2 linked regions of the Homo sapiens genome follow. Changing the gene in region 1 together with any one later gene gives a genetic interaction. Each region holds a gene or a part of one and is shown on either strand. Other genes may lie near its edges.

The links. A genetic interaction does not mean that the proteins touch.
Region 2: of EGF (region 1) and RPS6KA5, changing one enhances a phenotype caused by changing the other (phenotypic enhancement), as found in Homo sapiens cells (one study listed by BioGRID).

Annotation. Positions count from the first base shown.
Region 1 is NC_000004.12:109,957,856-109,964,951, forward strand, and holds part of EGF (pro-epidermal growth factor isoform 1 preproprotein), read left to right. Parts: intron 1-1,456; coding exon 1,457-1,582; intron 1,583-3,011; coding exon 3,012-3,134; intron 3,135-4,007; coding exon 4,008-4,130; intron 4,131-5,317; coding exon 5,318-5,443; intron 5,444-6,545; coding exon 6,546-6,682; intron 6,683-7,096.
Region 2 is NC_000014.9:91,057,642-91,064,705, reverse strand, and holds the start of RPS6KA5 (ribosomal protein S6 kinase alpha-5), read left to right. Parts: upstream 1-4,064; 5' UTR 4,065-4,271; coding exon 4,272-4,374; intron 4,375-4,581; exon of another isoform or gene 4,582-4,688; intron 4,689-7,064. UniProt on the Homo sapiens protein: Serine/threonine-protein kinase that is required for the mitogen or stress-induced phosphorylation of the transcription factors CREB1 and ATF1 and for the regulation of the transcription factors RELA, STAT3 and ETV1/ER81, and that contributes to gene activation by histone phosphorylation and functions in the regulation of inflammatory genes.

The DNA.
Region 1 (7,096 bases):
TTGCCAGGCCTCTGGCCTCTGTATCTACCTGCATTCTAGGTATCTGCCCTTACGCTCAAGCTTGCTACTGTATTTCTCATAGTATTTTACAATGGTGCTATTGTTTTTAAAATGGGCAAAAAATAAGGTGCAAAAGAGACAAAAATCTCATTAACTTTTTGGAAAGAGATATGCAGTTGTCCCCCAGTATCCGTGGGGGATTGGTATCCCCCAAGATACCCAAATCTGCAGATGCTTAAGTTCTAATATAAAACGGTGTATTTGTATATAACCTAGCCACATCCTCCCATATACTTTAAATCATCTCCAAATTACTTATAATACCTAATACAATGCCTACATCACTTCATTCCTGTGAATTCAACATAGTGCTTGGCATGTGGCAAATTCATGTTTTGCTTTTTGGAACTTTGCTTTGTGGAATTTTTTTTCCCAAATATTTTCAGTCCTAAGTTGGTTGAATCCACAGATATGGAGGGCCAACTGTAGGTGTTACTAGTTTAGCCCTTGATTCTGGCTCTGAAAATCCCAATGGTACAAAATTGACCACTTATTCAATATAGCTGGCTAATTCAACCCAAACACCCAACTCGCTGAGCAGATTTTACTGTTTATTATGGAATATTTGGAACACGTGGGACACTGGCAGCAATAACTACAGAAATTTGAGGAGCAGAGATATGGCAATGGTATATATTGAGTCTGAAAGATGTTCATTAAATAATGATGTTAAAAACAGCTAAATAGCTTACATATCTAACCTATAAATATTACACTTAAAAAGTATTCTTGGCCAGGCACAGTGGCTCATGCCTATAATCCCAACACTTTGGGAGGCTGAGGTGGGCAGATCACTTGAGGTAGGAGTTCGAGACCAGCCTGGCCAACCCCGTCTCTACTAAAAATACAAAAATTAGCCAGGTGTGGTGGTGTGCACCTGTAATCCCAGCTACTTAGGAGGCCAAGGCAGGAGAATCGCTTGAACACAGAAGGCTGAGGTTGCAGTGAGCCAAGATTGTGCCACTGCACTCCAGCCTGGGTGACAGGGGGAGACCCTGTCTCAAAAAAAAAAAAAAAAAAAAAGTATTCTTAGGTTTGAATCTGTTTTCATTTCCTAAGCAGATTATTTCATTTGCAGAATGTGTGCTTTTTTGTGATAAAAGTACATTAGAATGAAAAAGCTAATAAGTAGTGTTTAGTATTCGCAACCTAAGAAATGACATCTCCAGCTAATCAGGATGCCCAATCCTGAGAGGTTTTGGAGAAGTAATACAATTGGAGAAAAAAGTGGGCTTCGGGATGCTGGGGAATCTGGGCTCTGGCTAAGTTTGCCTCCGTGAGAGATGCAGCTGTAGACGTTGTAGGGAGGTAAGACCTCTTAAGAATCAGGAAAAGATTTAGCAGTGTCCTCTGTCAAAACACGGCCCCACTCCAAATAAAGCATCTTCTCTTTTAGAGCAGAAACTTTGCAAATTGAGGAAAGGAAACTGCAGCAGCACTGTGTGTGGGCAAGACCTCCAGTCACACTTGTGCATGTGTGCAGAGGGATACGCCCTAAGTCGAGACCGGAAGTACTGTGAAGGTAATGACTGGAAGTACTGTGAAGGTAATGGAAGAGTCGCTGCTTGAGGGGAGGAATGCTCAACTGAGCCAGCGGCTTGTCTTCAGTGGGCCAGCCAGAGACTCAGTGGAAAACCAACTTCAAGTCCATTCTCCCCGTCCCCCACACAACCCCTGAAGACTATTTTTTATTTATTTTTTCTTGTTTGTAAAACCTTTATAATACTTTCCTATCTTCATATCTTGTGTTTCTAGATCAAACACTGAGAGGATGCTTAGGGGTTGATATAAGGCAGGGATTCTCTAAGTGGATTCTACCAACCTCTGCGTTTGTGTGCAAAATTTCAGTATGTGTACATTTTTAGGGGAGTGGTTTCATAGGGATCGTAAGAGTCTCAAAGAGTCTGTGACTCCTATCTTATCCCAAGAAGATCTAGTAGGAAGCCTGGGAAACTGAGCCAGGCTGGTTTGTCTAAGAATCCTCCTGTTTTGAGATTCTGGACCAAGTGCAACGAACTCAGGAGAAATACTATGTCCTTTTTCCTGGAAGGTGCAGTAGTTTAGTGATGAAAAGAATCCAATGGCTGCAGCACACATACAGTGGAATTAGCTGGGGTGAGACCTCAGGTAAATCTAGCATCTGCCTGTTAATTATAACCCCCTGCTTACATGGGACCAATGGGTGAAAGCCATGGCATAGAGATAGTGAGCTGGAAGGCTGGGGCTTCAGCCAGAATAAAACTGCTGGAGAAGGTTTCCACATTTAGGGAAAGGGCTCTGGTCAGTCTTGAAGGTTGAAGAGCACAATAGGAAATGTCCTAAGCTTGTAAAGAGCTTTCAAGAGTCCCTAACTGAAATGGCATGCTATATCTTTTCAAGGGAAATAATACTACCTTTTTCCCAAGGGTTATTCTAATATGAAAATCTGTATTTGAAAGTATAAGCTGGGCCAGGCGTGGTGACTCACACTTGTAATCTCGGCACTTTGGGAAGCCAAGGCGGGCAGATCACTTGAGTCCCAGAGTTCAAGATCAGCCTGAGCAATGTAGCAAAACCCCATGTCTACAAAATATACAAAAATTAGCTGAGTGTTGTGGTGTGCACCTGTAGTCCCAGCTACTCAGGAGGCTGAGGTGGGAGGATCACTTGAGCTTGGGAAGCAGAGGTTGCAGTGAGCTGAGATCGTGGCATTGCACTCCAGCCTGGGTGACAGAGCCAGACTCTATCTCGGGGAAAACAAAAGCATAAAATGTGACAGAATAGAAATGGCTTTTATCATCATTTAATTGACTTATTTTACCCTTTGCTAGAGTATGGAAAACAGACTTTCCATGATCAATTACAGCATATACAAGTGTGAGATACCCTGCGTTGTGATGACTTATTAGTGATAGCACAATTTATTTTCAAAAATAGCCATTTGAATGTATTGTGCTGTTGTCATTGTGCAGATGTTAATGAATGTGCTTTTTGGAATCATGGCTGTACTCTTGGGTGTAAAAACACCCCTGGATCCTATTACTGCACGTGCCCTGTAGGATTTGTTCTGCTTCCTGATGGGAAACGATGTCATCGTAAGTTATAGCAACAAGTATTTATTGCATTAGTTTTCTTCATTTTCAATATGTTTCTAAGGTGGCTATGATCTGGGTTGGTGATCTTCAATCAGCAGTGTGCATCATAATTACCTTTGAGTTTTATTTTGTTTGGCTTTTTAAAACATGGATGACTGCCAGCCTGGGCAACATGGTGAGACCCTATCTCTACTAAAAATACAAAAAAAAAAAAAACTTAGCCAGGCATGTTGGCCCATGCCAGTGGTCCCAGCTACTGAGGAGGCTGAGGCAGAAGGATCACTTGAACCAGGAGGAGGAGGCTGCAGTGAGCCGAAATCAAGCCACTGCCCTTCCTGGGTGATGGAGTGAGACCCTGTCTCAAAAAGCAAAACAAAACAAAAACCATGGATGACTGGACTCTACCCCAGACCTATCAAATCAGAACCTCTCAGGTTGGGAAACAAATCATCTATAATCTATGTATTATAGGTATTTTCCTGTTTCTTTGTCTGTATTACCTTATATTTCATTGTCTATCTCTTTTTTATTTTAATTTTTTAATTTTTAAAAATAACTATTGGGTACTACATTTCATTGTATATCTCTAAAGGATAGGCATGTAAAAAACATAATCATGATACATTATTGTATCTAAAAAACTTAACTATAATTCCTTCCTATCATTTAATATCCAGTTAATTTTCAGGCATAACCACAATACCATTGTTATGCATTAAAAAATTAAGGCTAGGCACAGTGGCTCACACCTGTAATCCCAACACTTTGGGAGGTCAAGGCAGGAGGATCACCTGGCAATATTAGCAACTGATTGCAATAAATTTTTGCAAACCCGATTTAACACTAATCTTGACCTTGTTCTTTATTAATTAGAACTTGTTTCCTGTCCACGCAATGTGTCTGAATGCAGCCATGACTGTGTTCTGACATCAGAAGGTCCCTTATGTTTCTGTCCTGAAGGCTCAGTGCTTGAGAGAGATGGGAAAACATGTAGCGGTGAGTTTATTTGCTTTATTTACCTTTTGTTTGTTTGAAAACATACATTTGCTCAGTGACATCTAAAAATTGATCTTGTTGTCAAGGAAGAATTGATTTTCCAATATTGTATACTGAAAGATATTGTTACAACAGATTAACATAGATTTAAATTTAGTATTTTTGGGTTTTTGGCTTTTTTGTTTTTGTTTAGACAGCATAGCGTCTAACTTATGAGCAAGGGCTTTGAGGCTTGACAGCCCTGAGGTAGCATTACCAGTTACTAGCAGTTTTGATTTTGGTCTAGATACTTGCCCTCTCTTGGTCTTTGTTTCTTCAACTGCAGAGATACTGATACTTGCCACCTTGATTAAATGAGACTTCAGATGCAGAGTGCTTAGTCTGTTTCTTGCACCTAATAAACACCTCTCTACTTTTATCTTCATAGAGACTTAAGTATATAGATAACTGGATGTAACTCAGAATTAGCAGAAGAATTGTGTGTGTGTTTTTGATTTTCTAATAAAACAAAGCCAAGCAGCTAAAAATGTGTGAGAGAAAAAAATTACTAGGAAGAGTTAGACCAGCTGCCAAACTCATCAAATGGATTTTTCATTCTAGACAGCTGCCAGTGCACTTGCTCCTGAACTCATTGGTAGAATAAGAGGACAAGGGCCACTGGAATGTGAAGGATTAACATCCAAGATGTTGGGTTATAGGGAAGGAGGGTAGTGTGACATTTTGATTTTTATCTCTGAAAAATAACCTTGATTGCAGCCATATGAATGATTGTGGAAATGTTTTAAAAAATCAACATATGGGCTGAGTGCAGTGGCTCATGCCTGGAATCCTAGCATTTTGGGAGGCTGAGGCAGATAGATCTCCTGAGGTCAGGAGTTTGAGACCAGCCTGGCCAACATGGTGAAACCCCGTCTCTACTAAAAATACAAAAATCAACCAGGCATGGTGGCGGGTGCCTGTAATCCCAGCTACTTGGGAAGCTGAGGCAGGAGAATTGCTTGAACTTGGGAGGCGGAGGTTGCAATGAGCCGAGAGTGCCATTGCACTCCAGCCTGGGTGAAAGAGTGAAACTCCATCTCAAAAAAAAAAAAAAAAATTAACAAATGGTTGACTCGCCCCCATCCTTTGATGAAAAATAATTATATTTTGGATGACGTAGCATCATTACTAAGCAATTGTTTTTGTAGGTTGTTCCTCACCCGATAATGGTGGATGTAGCCAGCTCTGCGTTCCTCTTAGCCCAGTATCCTGGGAATGTGATTGCTTTCCTGGGTATGACCTACAACTGGATGAAAAAAGCTGTGCAGCTTCAGGTTAGTGCTGTGGTTGTCTGGAACTGTGTCCCTGAAAAAAAATTCATGAAAATCTTTTGTTTAGAAAGATGGAAAGTTAACTGCTTATGGTTTTGTATTTTTGAAATGGAAAAAAAGCAAATCACATTGTAAATATGAATAATATGAGTAATAACAATATAACTAGTAACCAGGCTTTTAAAGACTATTTCTATTCTTAATTAGCATCCGGCAAAGATTTGCCATAATATCAGATAGAATATTTTTAGTATATGAGAAAGTCATGACAAGAATAGTCTTAAAACACTTTATAGTTAAGAGGCATTTAATAAGTATTTGTTGATTGATTTGATTTTTATCTCTCTACTGAATATAATTATAACACTGACAAATTCTGTCCTTTTAATGTCAAAATTCAATATAAAGTTGTACGCTTCAGCTATTTTTTTTGTCTTCTGATATTACCTCTCTTGCATCCTTCAACAGCCATGGAAATTCTAGATTTATACCAAATTGATTTAATATCTCCTGAAGGTTCATTATGTTTTAAACATATAATGCTCATAATGCTATCATGTAATGATGATCCTGTATACCTTGCCCTAGTGAGACCCCAATACTGTTAACTTCTCAGGGCCTTCATTAATATAGTGTAATCTAAATCCTTAAAATTATCAAGGGTCTTGCTATTAACTCAAATCATTGTGCCTCCCTTTAAGAAGTGCCCAGGCCAGGGAAAGTTACTTATTCGGACATGAAAGTATACAATCTACTAATATTAGTGTTTCAGTATGTGTGAATCAAGAAGATGTATAACCCTAAGACTTGCATCATTTAGCTATGGTGTTGGTTATTTAACGCTGTCTCTTTCTGTAAGTAAGCAGCTTTTAAAAGCAAATACCTGGAGAGGGAAGAAACCAGAGATGAAATTCTGGCAATATGTCACCTCCTGGAAGAGGACATCCTCTTGCCTGTCTTCACCTATACCACACTAGAGGGAAATTAAGAAAACAAGTACTGTAGAAATTGGGTAAAAAGGTACAGTGAAAGGGAAGAGTCAGAGATGCCTCTTAGTTTCTAAGGCACGTTTTAAATTCAGCCATATTTGAAATTTGGTTAACAGGACCACAACCATTTTTGCTGTTTGCCAATTCTCAAGATATTCGACACATGCATTTTGATGGAACAGACTATGGAACTCTGCTCAGCCAGCAGATGGGAATGGTTTATGCCCTAGATCATGACCCTGTGGAAAATAAGGTATGGTTTTGTTACTTGAACAGATGTGGACATGCTTTAAGGACAGAGTAGAGGATTTTATCCTAACAAATGACCTGGCCTACTTGAAAATCCTCTGCTAAGTTCTGAATGATTAGGCACAGAACAAGTTAAATATAGATATTGGAGTAACACTTGAGAAATTTTAAGGACTTTTTTGCCATCATAATGCTACCCTAGTCCTTGCTACGATTAGCCGTTTTATTGGAAATGATCACACAGTTTAGTTTTAGATTTTCAGTTTAGTTTCCTCTTTGGAGATGAGGATGGGAGACTAGCACAGTGTCATGCATATAGAAGGAGCTTCATAACCAGGTTTTTTATTACTTGCTGGTAGTGAGAGGAGTGGGAGGTTGAGTTTGGGGCATAGGAAGTATGGATTAGTAATTTGTGTTT
Region 2 (7,064 bases), on another chromosome or scaffold:
AAACTCTCCAGGTTTTCCTTTTCTACCTCTAGCTCCACCTTCTTATTCCAACTTTTCTTTTCTTTTTTTTTTTTTTTTTTTTTGAGACAGAGTCTGACTGTGTCACCCAGGCTGGAGTGCAGTGATGCGATCTCAGCTCACTGCAACCTCTGCCTCCTGGGTTCCAGTGATTTTCCTGCCTCAGCCTCCCGAGTAGCTTGGATTATAGGCATGCACCACCATGCCCAGCTAATTTTTGTATTTTTAGTAGAGATAGGGTTTCACCTTGTTGACCAGGCTGGTCTTGAATTCAAGCGATCTGCCCATCTCAGCGTCCCAAAGTGCTGAGATTACAGGCATGATCCACCGCACCCAGGCTTCTCCCTAGGTAATCTCATTCGTACCTCTGGCCTCAAATGTCATCTATGTGCCAGTGATTCCTAAGCTTACATCCCTATGCTAGACCTCTCTTCAGAGCTCTAGACTCATATATCCACATAGCTACTTAATTTTGGCCCTGGATGTCTCAAAATTAAACTCTTGATGTTCTCTCTCATATGTGCTCTTCCTTTAATTTGTCCCTTTCATTATTAAATGGTACTGCCATCCTCTTCCAGCCACTAGCTGCTCACGCTAGAAACACTGGTGTCATTTCAGATATTTCCATTTTTCTCACTAACCAAGTCTAATCCTTCAAGTTCAAAATATAAACATAGAAATGTTCCATTTCTCTCCATCTCTACTGCACCCACTCTCATCTTTTGCCCAGATTACAGTGATAGCCTCCTAACTGGTCTCCTTGTATCCCATTTTGCCTTCTCCAGCGCAGTCTCCAAACACTAACTTCAGTGACCTTCTGAAAATACTACCACGATTATATCATTCCTGTGTTTAAATTCCTTCTACTGCTTCCCACTTCACACAGGATAAAGTCCAAAAATATTAATAAGAGCAACCACATACTTCCTGACCGGGCCTCTGCCCACCTCCTGAACCTCATCCCTTGCTTACTGCATTAAGGCTCCACTGCCTTTCTCAATCTCTCAACCGAATAGGCTCTTTGCCTGCCTCAGGACATCTTCCTAAAATTTTGATCCCTCCATATTACACATATGAAGTAGTATAAGGCTAGATTATGCTTTGGTAGCAAATAATCCCATCTAACTAGCTTATGCCTAAAACGGTGTATGTATTGCTCACATCACAGTCTGACATAGGTCAGGTGGCTCCTTAAAGAATTAAGTGGAAACTCAGGGGTTCAGAGTCCTCCCAGTCTGTGGCATACCCACATTAAAAATGTGGCCTTTGTTACAGCAGTTGAAAGAGAAGAGTGTGAGTGATTATGCAAGGAGTTTTCTGGTCAGGCCTGAAAATGTTATATATCATACCAATAGGATCTGCCCATACCCCATTGGCCAGATCATAGTCATATGACCCTAACCTAACTGCAAAGGAGGTAAGAAAAAAAAAAAAAAAGTCTTCCTGTGTGTCTAGGAAGAGGAAATGAGATTGGTGAACATCAGGCTACTTTTTGCCACATCCTGGTTAAAACCTACTCATTTTTAAAGTCTCAGCTTAAATAATACTTACTTACAAAGGTCTTCCAGCTCCTCCAACTTAAATTAGGCATCCCTGATACATTCTATTGTAGCACCCTGTAATTTTCCTTTACAGCATGATCACAATGGAAAGTTTATATTTCTTTATGTGATTAATATTTATATCTGTTGCTAGACTGTAGGCTCTATAGGAGCAAGGACTGCATCTGTTTTGCTCCCACTGTGTCTCTAGCACCTATTACAGTACTTGGTATATAACTGGTATAAAAGTTTTCGAGTGAACAAATGAACAGTTGCACACAGTCATTGCCTGGCTCCAAATAGCACATGACTTTTGCAGGAGAAAGACAAGTAAGTAGGCAGTCATGGTTTAGTGTGATGATAAATGTTCCAGGCAGGTAAGCCCAGGGAGCTGTGAAAGCAACCTGAAGGAACTTGCAAGGCTTCTGTGTTTTGTCTTTCACAGCAGTCGAATCCAGGAGTCTGCAAACTATGGCCTGTAGGCCAAATCTGGCTCATTGCCTGTTTTTTAACTGCCCTTGAGCTAAGGATTGTTTATATATATATATATATATATATATATATATATATATATATATATATATATATTTTTTTTTTTTTAGACAGAGTCTCGCTCTGTTGCCCAGGCTGAAGTGCAATGGTGTGATCTCGGCTTACTGCAACCTCCGCCTGCCAGATTCAAGCAATTCTCCTGCCTCAGCTTCCTGAGTAGCTGGGATTACAGGCGCCCACCACCATGCCTGGCTAATTTTTTGTATTTTTAGTAGATTCAGGGTTTTGCCATGTTGGCCAGGCTGGTCTTGAACTCCTGACCTCAGGTGATCCATCTGCCTCAGCCTCCCACAGTGCTGGGCTTACAGGTGTGAACCACTGCGCCTGACCTGTTTTTATATTTTTAAGTGATTCAAAAATAATTAAAAGAAGAATATATTACGATACATGAAAACTATGTGAAATTCAAATTTCAATGTCCATAAAAAATATTCTATTGGAACACAGCTACTTCTTTTATTTATTGTCTATGACTGCTTTTGCGCTACAATGGCAGAGCTGAGTAGTTGTGAAAAAGGTCATACAGCTTGCAAATCCTAAAATATTTACTATCTGGCCCTTAATAGAAAAAAGTGTGCTGACTCCTGATCCAATCCATGCTTAGTTTAAAAGATCACATCTATCTGAATTACGTCCAACTGTACATCTTTAAGTTTCTGCTTTTTCCCATTCTCGTGTCTGCTACTAGAAATCAGGTTCCCTTTAGTTCTATCCTTGCAGCAGGATTCCTGCCCTGCTATCTCTCTCCTCTTTTCAGTTCATCACTGTGTACTAAAAAAAATCTGCACTCTTCAGCACAGCATCCCTAGTTCCCCATTATCTTACCACACCTCACCTTGTCAGCTGTATCTCTTACATCATACTTTCATCTAACCTTATCAATCACTTAACCCACCCTTGCCTTCTCTGCTGTAGGCCAATGCTCACAGTTACTCTCTCTGTGTGGAATGTCTATTGCTGGTATTTCTCTCTTATCCATCCTTTACGTTGGTTATCTCAAATGCCTCCTTGCCCTAAAAGCTTTCCCCAGTTCCTCGTCTGGGAATAATTATTGCCATCCGTGCGAGATTCTCTAACGCTTTGTACGACTGCTTTATTTCAAATTCTGCTTTATAGTTCTTTTGTGTACACACACAGATTGTTTCTCACGTTCTATTGAAAGCTGCTTAGGGGAGGAATTGTATTCTATTTTGTTAATCTCTGCATCCTTTCGGCGCCTAGTAAGAGTCTTGTACGAAACAGAAATGTCTCTCCTTCGTAAAATTCCTCATCGGGAGCTGGGACTGTGAATTTTTGTAACGTTTAAGAACTATCTGTTATTTAAGAACAAACACTCTGCTTAACTTGTTTAGGGTTCACTAGAGCGAGTAAGACCTTTTTAGGGCACGCCGTCTCGCTGGTTGTCACACACGCATGGATCGCTGCCGGGACCCTTAGGTTTGTCTGCAAACACGTGGGTGATAAGCGCTACCCTCCAGGCCCCTCCTCTGTCCACGGTGATTGGCGGACCAAACGTTCCAATCATCCCTCCCCGCCTCTTTCGGCAGTAGCCAATCAGAGACCCCGAGCGCCTCCTGACTACTAGACACTGTTTACTAACAGATCGAAGCTGGGGAATAAGGGGTGTGACCGTTCTGGGGAGGTCAGGGAAGGGAAGGTCTTGACTGCGAGTGCGCACCAGAGGAAATGGGCGGGGCAGAGCTTTGGGTCTCACCAATCGGAGTGGCGGCGCTCCTCCCTCTCCTGCCTCCCCGCCAAGCAACAACAATTCGAGGAGCGAGGCGGGGAGGCTCGTGAAACGTCACAGCGTACTGCCCAATGGGAACCGGCGTTGGCAGACGCGCGCGCCCTGTGTCCAATCAGCGAAGGCGGCTCGAATGGCTCCCTTACCTTGCTGGCTGTGGGCGGAGCGGCCTGAGGAGGCGGCGGTGGAGCAGGGGGCGGTTTGGTTGCGCGGTACTAGCGGTGCCCGCCGAAGGGGGAGGAGGCGAGGAGCGAGCCGTGCGGCCAGAGCGGGAAAGAGACTCGTCTTTGCGTCCGAGTTCTGGAGCCGCCGCACCCCGACTCCTGGGGCCGCGGCAGCGGCTGCGAGGGGACGGGCGTCCGCTGTCTCCTGGGTTCCCCTCGTAGCGACCCGCGGGATCGGAAAAAAAGGAGAAGATGGAGGAGGAGGGTGGCAGCAGCGGCGGCGCCGCGGGGACCAGCGCGGACGGCGGCGACGGAGGAGAGCAGCTCCTCACTGTCAAGCACGAGCTGCGGACTGGTGAGCGACCCCGCCCTCTGCCGGCCGGGCCCGGCGCGGGGGCGCGCCTGAGGGCACGCGGGTGCCCGCGCGGGGCTGGGGGCGCGGGGCCGCAGCCGTGGGCGCGGAGGGGCGGGCCTGGGGCGGGGCGTCGCGGTCGGGGCGCGTGCCCCGGGGGTCCCGGGAGGTGGGGGCGCGCCTTGGGGGAGGCGGCCGAAAGTTTTCCCCAGCCCGGGAATGAGCGGCGGGCACCAGGCATCGGGGCCAGCGCAGCCGCCGACCGCTGCCCGTGGCACGCACCTCCGAGGATGTCGCTGCTCCCCCTTCCCGCACAGGTGACACACGTGTGTCTGCGTCCTGTCAGGGCGAAAGGTGCGCCTGCCTCCGCGTGGGGCGAGCGGCGCTTTGTTTTGGAGAGTGTCTCCCTCCTCCGCCCCTCTGGTCCCCGCGATGGGGGGTCCCGGTGGGGCTCTGTGGAGCCATCCCCTAAGGTGCTGGGGTCCTGTAGGAGATAAACGGGAGGTTTCGCCTCGGGCTTTTACCGAGTCCAGTCTAGAGACAGGAACAGGAATCGCCGGCTCCAGGGATTGAGTGCCTTTATTCTCACTTATCATGAAATACTATACTTGGCCTTGAATTTCCTTCAGAGGTCCCTGGAGATGATGGCTTTAGAAATTTAAAGCTCCAGGTAAAAGGAACTAACGAGCAGGCTTCAGCGCTTACGTTCTAATGTTTGAGATCACTAGCGTTGTCCTAAGCTTTATAACTAATTAAATGTATTCGTGGTGTAGGTTCAGGTTGTTCATTTTGGAAAATGCTTATTCAGACCAATCAGTACAATTTGGATTTATATTCTTGGAGCCCAGTCTCGTATTGTAGATATATTAATACTTTTTTCTCTGAACAGATAGTACATTTTAATGAGTCGTTCGTTATTACTAGATATGTTTGTGAGCGTTGAAGGTTTTTGACAGAGCTGCTTTGGCATATTGGGATTTTTTTTTTTTTTTTTCAGACAGAGTTTCGCTCTTGTTGCTCAGGCTGGAGTGCAGTGGCATGATCTCGGCTCACCGCAGCCTCCGCCTCCCGGGTTCAAGCGATTCTCCTGCCTCAGCCTCCGGAGTAGCTAGGATTACAGGCATGCGCCACCATGCCCGGCTAATTTTGTATTTTTTGTGGGGGCGGGGTGGGGGGGGCGGTCCTCTCCACGTTGGTCAGGCTGGTCGCGAACTCCCGACCTCAAGTGATCCGCCCGCCTCGGCCTCCCAAAGTGCTGGGATTACAGGCGTGAGCCACCGTGCCCGGCCGGGTTATTATTTAATTGTGAAGGCACAAAAGCTTAAACGGCAGGATTCAGGTGTCCACTAGTACATCTTGTTTCTGTTTTGAACAGATTGGAAAGTTAGCTCTGTCCGTCAGTTCTTTCAGTTTTTGTTATTTCTACTGAGATTGCCTATAAGCATTCCATTGGGTGCCAGTGTGGTGACTTAATTCAAGAGAGATGTCAAATTCATGCTTCTTAATTCAACATTTGTAAACATTGTTTTTTTGGTCATTGTGAATCTGTTATACATCTTGAGCCAGCTGTTCCATATTTTTGAGTTCCTAACATAACCTGTATGAATTCAGGTGATTTGGTTTTTCTTCTCTCAATTTCATAGACAACTGATATTTTCAAAAGACCCTGACATGGTTTACTCAGTATACATTTATTCGGATTTGTGCCACACTCAGTGTCAGGTGCTTTCTGGTGTGAAGATTTTGAATTTTTTTCTTGTCTTACATAACGATCCACTGATTTATATGTATGGAATCCTACTGTACAGCAAAAGCTACTTGAAGTCATATGCTTCTCAGCCATCGACTGTGGTGCAACAAGCAGCTTTTTGCTAAATGACCAAGGAGCAACCTGCTTGTTATTAGTAGTTAACCAACTGCTTGGTTTCTGGATTTTGCAAACAATGCTAGTTTTGTAGAAAACAATGAGTACTGCTTTATTTCCCCCTCTCTTCTAACTGTGTGAATCATCAGCTTCAAGTTCGCATTTTAGAAATTTTTCTGATGGATGGTGAGATTATACTGAATTCATTAGTACTGTTAACTGTCAAAGGAAACGAACAATCATTTTGATTTATTACTGAACACTGGAACAACTGACCGGATATAGTGGTCAAAAACACTGTTAAAATATAACTTGAAAGAGTTGCTCATCTTCAGCCAACTGCACTTCTTTCAGCACATGATCTATAATAGGCACCAGAGTAATTTGATCTGATATGGTCCCGTCTCAGAATGTAGATAAGCATCTAGTTATATCAGGCTGGCAGTTGGTGGTGGCTCATTTGTGCAGAACACTTTATTGTATTCCATAGGATGAATGAAAAAGCAAAAAACGTCCCATGAAAGGACATGGAGTTGGAAGACATGATTCTAAATCCCGTCTCTGCAGCTTAATATGTAGACATCGGCAAGTCACTTCACCCTTTCAGATTCACATCTTTAATCTATAAAATGTGAGAATTGAATGAGACACTGTTGGAAAAGTGCTAAGCGGGTTGCTTGGCATATAGTGGGCCCTTAGGAAATGTTGGTTGAATGTATATATAAAAATCATTCCATAATAGTATCTTATCTTGAAGTGTGTGAATTAATCCAGTGTAATTTGGGAAACAAATCACTCATTTAGTGTTTAGCCTATGTCACATTGCCTG